Homo sapiens: one gene and its partner. The protein of the gene in region 2 purifies or fractionates together with the protein of the main gene of each other region. This does not show direct contact. Each region holds a gene or a part of one and is shown on either strand. Other genes may lie near its edges. The genes, in order: LYRM4 and CDNF.

What was found.
Region 1: the proteins of CDNF (region 2) and LYRM4 purify together in Homo sapiens (affinity purification with mass spectrometry, with the first as the bait; one large-scale study listed by BioGRID). This does not show direct contact.

The regions. Positions count from the first base shown.
Region 1 is NC_000006.12:5,219,282-5,223,093, forward strand, and holds part of LYRM4 (LYR motif-containing protein 4), read right to left. Parts: intron 1-3,812.
Region 2 is NC_000010.11:14,834,926-14,839,533, forward strand, and holds the start of CDNF (cerebral dopamine neurotrophic factor precursor), read right to left. Parts: upstream 3,113-4,608; 5' UTR 3,022-3,112; coding exon 2,907-3,021; intron 1-2,906. Other genes in the region: HSPA14 (heat shock 70 kDa protein 14), read left to right, coding at 3,478-3,534. UniProt on the Homo sapiens protein: Trophic factor for dopamine neurons. Prevents the 6-hydroxydopamine (6-OHDA)-induced degeneration of dopaminergic neurons.

The DNA of each region.
Region 1 (3,812 bases), on a different chromosome or scaffold from region 2:
GGTCAGGATATTCTGCTATGTATACTTGTTTGTCTCCCCAGCTCTCCAAAGTCCTTACCTAAAGAAAAGCAGCTCTAGATCTTGGAATTAAATGTGTCTAAAGCAATCAAGAGTCATGATTCAAATTTTCGATGCACTTTCGAGATGAATGCTGTAATGGTTCCCTCCTCTCTTTCCTGCTCTTTCTGCCTCACTTAAAGCACCCAGTGTTATTCTTCGCCCTAAGGGAAAATATTTCACTGGCTCAGAACCACAAAACTACTACTGCATGAAGAGTTTCTTCCTTAGTTGTAAGAATTCTTATTTCGAATGATCACAGCTTTGTGAAAGTCATCAAAAATCTGAGTGAATCTTCAAATTTGGTGGGAGGGGGCTAATCACCAGTTATTTCAATCCTGGCCCTGCCCTGGTTTTTATCATTTGCTTTTTTTTTTTTCTTTTTTCTTTGCTTTTCTTTTTTGCAGATTCTGGCTATCAGCCTCTTGACCATACCACTGAGCAAGAATATTTCAAAGAAAAATTTGCAGAAGTTGCTGTGAAAATGGCAGCTAGGTGCTACACAATGCTGTGCATTAGGATGATCCTAATGAGTCAGACGCTGTCTGAAATACGGCATGAAAAACTAACGCAGAAAGGGCAACACAACCAAATACAAAGCAGCAGCCCCACAGCCACAGAAACAGTGAGGTGATGATGCTCGCACACACACTGCCCTTTCCACTCTCCTGAAGCTTGGCAGTTTCTTGGTGCTTCTTTGCACAGGAGACTCCCATTTGGCTTTCCTTCTCCACCCCAGCCTTTGCTCTTCATTCTGTCATTAGATCTCAAGTGCCCACAGGTTCTTTTTACCATTGCAAGGATTATACTCTTTTCTGAGATTCTTCCACTCAAAACTCCAATTTCCCTGTTGCACAGCAGGCAGTAACGAAAGCTCTTCAGTGCTTGAGGTTCTGCTTTACTCTGTCCCCTCCCAGAAACACCAAATGCAGCCATAATCACAGCCTCTGAGCACTTGGAGGCTCATATCAGCTTTAGCATCCAATGTGTGATGTGGAAACCACCTAATGTAATGCCTTTCATTTCTGTCATCTTCATCAGCATCTCAAGTGCTGGTTTCTCTGTGTACCTATCCTATAAACACATCTGTGCCTTTTCTTGGTCCTCTGTAACCTGAACTCAAGTATCCTAGGAACAATAAAAGCTGAATCCTTTCTACTGGCCTCTGTGGGGCAAACTCATCTACCTCCAATGACTTGGAAGGACACATCCTCCACCTACTTGCCTTAACTGAAATGTGCAAGAGGAAGCTGCTAAATTCTAGCATGTCCCCATATTCCACAGGGCCCAGAGGAGGGTGCTGGTGTATTCCGGGAGCCTGCTGCTGCTTTCAGATCACTGATTCACCCTTATGCATCTTTGAGGTCATGCCATCTGACAATACTGTGTTGCATGCCTCCATGATACTGTTACTTGTTAATTTCTGGAGGTCAAGTCTTCATATTCAAGTCTTAATGTCTAAAGAGCACTCATTGCAATACACAGACCTCCAGTTTTAGGTTTCTTTTTTCAGAGACAGGGTTTCACTGTCACCCAGGCTGAAGTGCAATGGCCCTATTATAGCTCTCTGTAGCCTCAAACTCCTGGGCTCAAACGATCCTTCCGCCTCACCCTCCCAAGTAGCTGGGAATACAGCAGCATGCCACCATGACCTGCTAATTTTCATTTTGTAGAGAGAGGGTGTCACTATGCTGCCCAGGCTGGTCTCAAACTCCTGACTTCCAGTGATCCTCTTGCCTTGGCCTCTCAAAGTGCTGGGATTACAGGTGTGAGCCACTATATCTGGCCTAGCTACTCCTTCCCAAGCTCCTTTGTGGGCTCATCTCATTCTGCTGCCCCTTACATGCTGTATTCTCTAGGGCACATATGTGAACCATTTTTCTTATTCATAAGATCTCTGCCAGTAATTGCATCTGTCAAAGGTTTCACCTGCCATATAGATGCCATTGGCTACCAATATTTCTCTAGTCCAGACCTTCCTTCTGAGGTCCAAATCCATATACCCAATTGCCTTTTGCACTTGTCAACTAAAATATAGACTCTTCCAGTGAATACATTCAAAACCGAAGTGCCTGGCTGGGTGCGGTGGCTCATGCCTGTAATCTCAGCACTCTGGGAGGCCAAGGCGGGCGGATCACGAGGTCAGGAGTTTGAGACCAGCCTGGTCAACATGGTGAAACCCTGTCTCTACTAAAAATACAAAAATTAGCTGGGTGCGGTGGCACATGTCTGTAATCCCAGCTACCTGGGAGGCTGAGACAGGAGAACTGCTTGAACCCGGAGGCGGAAGTTGCAGTGAGCCAAGATCGCGCCACTGCACTCCAGCCTGGGCTACAGGGCAAGACAATGTCTCAAGAACAAACAAACAAACAAACAAAAACCTGAAGTGCTCATGATGACCAATACTTCCTTCCTCAGGTAGGAGAATCTTCATGCAGTCAACTGCCCAAGTCAAATACTTAGAGACTCATCCTAAATTCTTTCCTTTCCCAGAACTCCCTATATGCAACCAATCACAAATCTTCCAATCGTAACTTTCCACATCCCTTCTGAATCACCTCTACTTCTCCAACTCCTCAGCCCCAATCTTGGTTCAGGCTCTTCTCTCTCGAAGTTATTTAACATCCTTGGGGTTATGGTGTGTGTATGTGTGTAGTGTATAATCAAATGGATCACGATGCCTATGGAGAGGAAGCTCAAGGATCATTTGAAGGTCACACGGACTCTGGGTATATAACAGAGTGAAGAAGAGCAGAAAGTTTCTTTCTGATAATGTGAGCTCCTGGTACAATGTAAGCCCCACATAGCAGGAACTTTAATCTTTCTGGCTCACCACTGTATGTGTCTGGTACAGAGAAGATATTCAATACATGTTTAATGAATAAATGAGCTTATCAAAATATCATAGGCAATATCAAAAAGACCTTCAAGAAAAGTACCAATAACCAATAATGAAAACAAAACAATGAAAAAAGGGTTTGCAGCAAAAAGATTCAAACAACTTTTAGAAGGCAATGATTACAAAATTCAAAATTACAATTTATTCAAGAAATACATACTAAATGCCTACTATATAAGCATTATGCCAGGAGCTGGGAATACAGTGGAGAATAACTAGGGTACTGGTCTCAGGTTCGGTGGGTGACAAGATCTGTAGATAAAGAGATGAAATAAGAAACAGAAGCCATTCCAAGTTAACACAAAGGGCCCAAGGGGACTGGTTTGAGGTAATGGAGTGGTCCTTCTCTTGAATGGGGCGGTGTTTTCACATGCCCTTAGGTTTGTCAAATCATTGAACTGTACCCTTAAAATGGATGCACTTGATTGTATGTAAATTATTCCTCAGTAAGATGACTATTAAAGTAAATTAAAAAAAAGTATAGAAGTTATATTACATTTGCCCACTTTTAAGAAAAGCAAAACAAGAAAAAAAAAAAAAGAAAGATTAGAATGCTAGAGAATATGTACATGGCTGACAGAAGCAATAACACTGAATTAAAACAAGACAAACTAGAAATTCAAATCTAAAGCATGGAAAAATTAAATACGTTGGTGAGAAATATGTAAGAAAAAAATTAACCTTCAGAATAGGGCAAAGGTGTATAACCTATGAATAATAAGTGTGAACAAACTGAACTGCATGGGTAATTAAATTTATAATGGAAGGAAATGTCCCAGAAGTGATTATAAAAAATTGAGAAGACTCATCGTTGAAATTTAACAACCAGAGGACAATGCCAAGATATCTACTTATA
Region 2 (4,608 bases):
CTTGAGTAAGGAGAAAGGAGCAGGACCAGTCAGGAGGTAGACTCAACGATGTAGTGATTGGTTGGGGGATAAGGGGGAAAGAGAAGTCTAGAATCTAGGCTAGGTGACCAGGTAGTTGTCCCATGCTGTCACCGTAAGCATGACAGTAACAGGTTTAGGGGAGTGAGAAGGGAAGGAGATGATGACTTTGGTTTTTTGACTGTGTTGATGTTGATGTACATCATATCTAAGAGGGCATGTTCACTAGTCAATTGGATGCAAGGTCTGAGACTCTAGAAAGGTCAGTGGATATAAGGTTAGAGATTTATTAGACTGGAGGTAGGTTGGTTTGGGTTGCCAAGAAGAGTGTGTAGACTGAGAAGAGAGAAGAGAAGAGAGCAGAACCCTGGAAAATTCTAAGCCATGGCTAGAGGATCAGAAGCCCACAAAGACACACTGGACAAGTGGGCATAGAGACAGGAAGGAGAAAAGCAGTATCATGACCATGAAGAGAAGGCAGTCTCTGAAAGGGAAAGATGTCAATGGTGTCACACACCACAAAGAAGTCAAGGTAAGAAAGGAAACTCATTTTCTGGACTTACATGAAGAGAATAACCTCACCATAAATGCCCTAACAAATTAGTAGCTTCTTAAGTTTTCTGGGATGTCTTTATTGCTAAAATAACCTCAGATAGCCATACTTCTTTTATTTATATTGTGCTTTTATGTTTATTAAAGATAGTTTTATAAGTGAATCTATAATTATTTTAAAATAAAAAGTTATTTAAAATAGTCCCATAATATAATCCTTTAAAAGAGATTTGGAAATATTTATGTTTTTCCAGTAAACCTCACATTACCTAATAATAGGACTCACAGACTTGAATATCTACAGGGGCCAGGCAAGGAAAAAGAAGAGTTAAGCAATTTGAATCGGGGGCAGAGTAGGGGCGGCAAACTACTCAAAACCCAAGTCCTTTCTAAAAAGAGCAGCCAATAGCCAATTCTACTATACAGCCATAAGGCCAATCTTGCCAGGTCATCTGGTTTTTTGAGAAAAGCCAGAAATATGAATTTTTACATAAAATTTCCCAATTTTAAAATGTACCCAGTGAATTTAATTTTTTTCAAAATATTTTGTAAATGTAACGAAACATATCAATAGGTCCGAGACGGCTCAGGAACCATTCAGTTTTTTTGCCTTCGCTCTAGAGTATGTATAATATGGCATTTTAATCTTATACATTGAGAAGAAATTAAGTTGTAAATAAGAAAGGAGGCTGAGGAGGGAGGATCACTCATAAGCAGTAATAGAGCTGGATGCAGAATCTGGTTCTTTTAGTTACCAAACTGTTATGTCCTTCCTCTGCGATTACACAAGCTTCTTTACCTAACAAATGAAATATATAGACAGGTTAGTCAGACATGCAATAATCACAGCATGCTGTAATAAATTTAGGACAGACAGCATAAGCTTCCCATTTAATTAATCCAGATGCTGTCTCTCTTGAAACATTTATAAGTGGGAGCCCCAGATGAGTCATCAAATCAATTGTCTTTGCCTCACAAAGTCTGTTTTAAAAGTATAGGACACAATTATAGCATGGTTTGGAGCAAAATTATAACTTAGCTAAACAAATATCTTTATATCGAGTAATAACATGTAGATATTTTAAATTTCTGGAGAAAAGTTTAATTATTGCAGAGCTCATAGAAAGCCAGGCTCCAATTATTAACACTTTAAGGACTGGGCGCTGTGGCTCACGCCTGTAATCCCAGCACTTTGGGAGGCTGAGGCGGGCCGATCACCTGAGGCCAGGAGTTCAAGACCAGTCTGGCCAACATGGTGAAACTGCATCTCTATTAAAAATATAAAAATTAGTCAGGCGTGGTGGTGGTGCCTTTAGTACCAGCTACTTGGGAGGCTGAGGCAGGAGAATCGCTGGAACCCGATGATGGAGGCTGCAGTGAGCCAAGATTGTGCCACTGTACTCCGGCCTGGGCAACACAGTGAGACTGTCTCAAAACAAAAACAAAAACAAAAAACAAAACAACAAAACAAACAAAAACACAACTTTAGTACGACTATACCCATCCATTCACTCAACATATATGATGAACCTACAATTTCCTGTTCACTAGGGATATATTTTCCAGCTGAGGGCATATACATTTAAACTAATTATTTTCAGTAAAACATGGAGTGAGCGCTACAGGAGTCCAGAAGGAAGGGGCTAGCATAGCCACTTACCTTCTTTGCCTTTGCTAACAGATCTCTAAAGTGAAGTACGCTGATTTTGCAAAAACCAAAGTCTCAGAGCTAGGGGACTTGGTGGGATACAGACTCACGTATTCTGACTGCGAGTTCACAGCTGAGATACCGTGAACAAAAAGGAACCACTCTTTTGTATTCCTCTCTTTCCCAAGGAGTCAGTGTACTCCTTTGCAAAGCAATTTTCACCTACAGAGTCCTAACAAATATTAGCTATGTCCTCTGATTTAAGCTACTCAACTCAATGCCATGTTTTGTTTTCCTTTGGGGAGTCACCAACTAGCTTGGACTTGAAAGACGTCTTCTGTGCAAGGGGAGGCAAATCTTGCTGGTTGGAAGCAGCAGAATCAATCTGGCGCCAGTATCATCTGAATCTAGCATTCTTTGCACAAACTCTAATCCAAATACAAACCCACCAGCTTTTACTGCTGAAGTTTAATATTCACAGCAAAACCACAACGTGGCCTCACGTTACCACCAGGCCCGGCTTGAGCTTTTTACTCGAGCTGGGCTTGGGCGATCTAAAACGAGGGACAGGGCCTGCATTTCCTGGGCGGAATGTTATTTATAGCCAGGGCCAGGAGAAGCCAAAGCCGACAGCTGCTGCGCCGCAGCGCGGGGCCGCCGCCATGCAAGCAGTTGTCACACCGCTCACCTTCACAGTCGGCCCCTGGCCGCCCCCCGGCCTCCTGGCCCTGCGTCAGCACCGGGTGAGAGACCAAAAGCCCGGCGCAAAAGGCCACCACAGCAACTGGGCTCGCGCACCACATGCTGGGCCAGCAGCTTCAATCGCCTCCGCCACCCGCGCCCACCGCCCACCAAGCTGCCAAAGCGAGCTGAGCAGAATTCGAGGTTGGAAAGAATCTGCCAGTAGTTGCCAGGACAAATGACGCAACTGAACACAGAGTTTCCATTGGCTCTCAAGGAAGGGATAGGAAGGGGGCGGAGTGTAGGAGCCTTTTCCCGTCCCTCCCCGGTTGCGCGTGCGCACTGTGCAGTTTCCGCGGAGCGCAGAGACGCGCTGAAGCTACTCGCGGACTGCGCGTGAAGAAAGGCGGAACCTTCACGCTGATTGGCGGCGACGCGGGAGGCTGTAGCGGCCGACCGGACGCAGGGGGCTGGCGGGAACGTGAAGCTCCGCGGTGCCTGATGGGGCCGTTGGGCGGCCGGTAGCTGTTGCTGTTGGGGGACCCCCTCATTCCTGCCGCTGCCGTCCCTGCTGCCTCATGGCGGCCATCGGAGTTCACCTGGGCTGCACCTCAGCCTGTGTGGCCGTCTATAAGGTGAGGGGCTGCGGAGCTGGGCTAGGGCTTCATGACGGCCACCCGGTTTTCTGGCGCTGGGTCATCCACAGGCTTGAGAGCGGCGTGTCGCCGGCCTAGGGATGTCGTGGAGTGGCGTTGCCGCGAGGACACTCCGGAGCGAAGGGCCGGGCAGGCCCGGCCTCGCGCCTGGCGATTCCTCCGGAAAGTCGTCTACTCCGCGGCGGAGGCTCGCGGCGATGTAGACGCGCGGGGTCCCAGGGCGTCATGGCGGCGGGATGCCCGGAGGGGTCCCAGGGACGACGTAGCTGCAGGGTGCCCGGGGGGGTCCCGGAGACAGCGGGGCCGCTGGGTGTCCCGGGGGGTCCCGGGGACGGCGGGGCTGCGAGCATTTTGGGGGAGGTCACGGGGACGTCCTGGCCTCTGGATGCCGGAAGGGGTCTCGCTGACGTCAGGGCCTCAGGATTCCCGCGGGTGGGAGGTCCTGGGAAAGTTGTGGCCGCGAGGTACTTGGAGGCGGTGGTCTCTGGGACAGCAGGGCCGCAGAACGCGCTGAGCTGGGCCCGAACGTCTAGGTCCCGGAGGGGCGGGGAGGCTGCAGTCGAGCTGGGGCTGATGGTCCCGCAAAGCTGCCTGGCTGTGAAGCCAGTTGATGGTGCGTGGTCTACAGAGGTGGCCTTTCTGGAAGTGAGAGCCTGACAGGACTTGTGGCCTTTCTCTCATCAGTGGGGAGGCAGAAGAAACGATAATCATGAACTCCGTTGCCACTAGTCCCGCGTTTAAATGTCAAATGACTTGTTAGGAAAAGCCAAAGGGAATAATACTACTTCATTTGTAGAAATGGGAAGAAAGGGGCCCAGCGCGGTGGCTTACGCCTGTAATCCCAGCACTTTGGGAAGCCGAGGCAGGCGGATCACGTGAGGTTAGGAGTTCTAGACCAGCCTGGCTAACATGGTGAAACCCCGCCTCTACTAAAAATACTAAAAATTAGCCGGGAACGCCTGTAATCCCAGCTGCTCAGGAGGCTGAGGCATGAGAATGGCTTGAACCCGGGAGGCGGAAGTTGCAGTGAGCCGAGATCTGGCACTGCAGTCT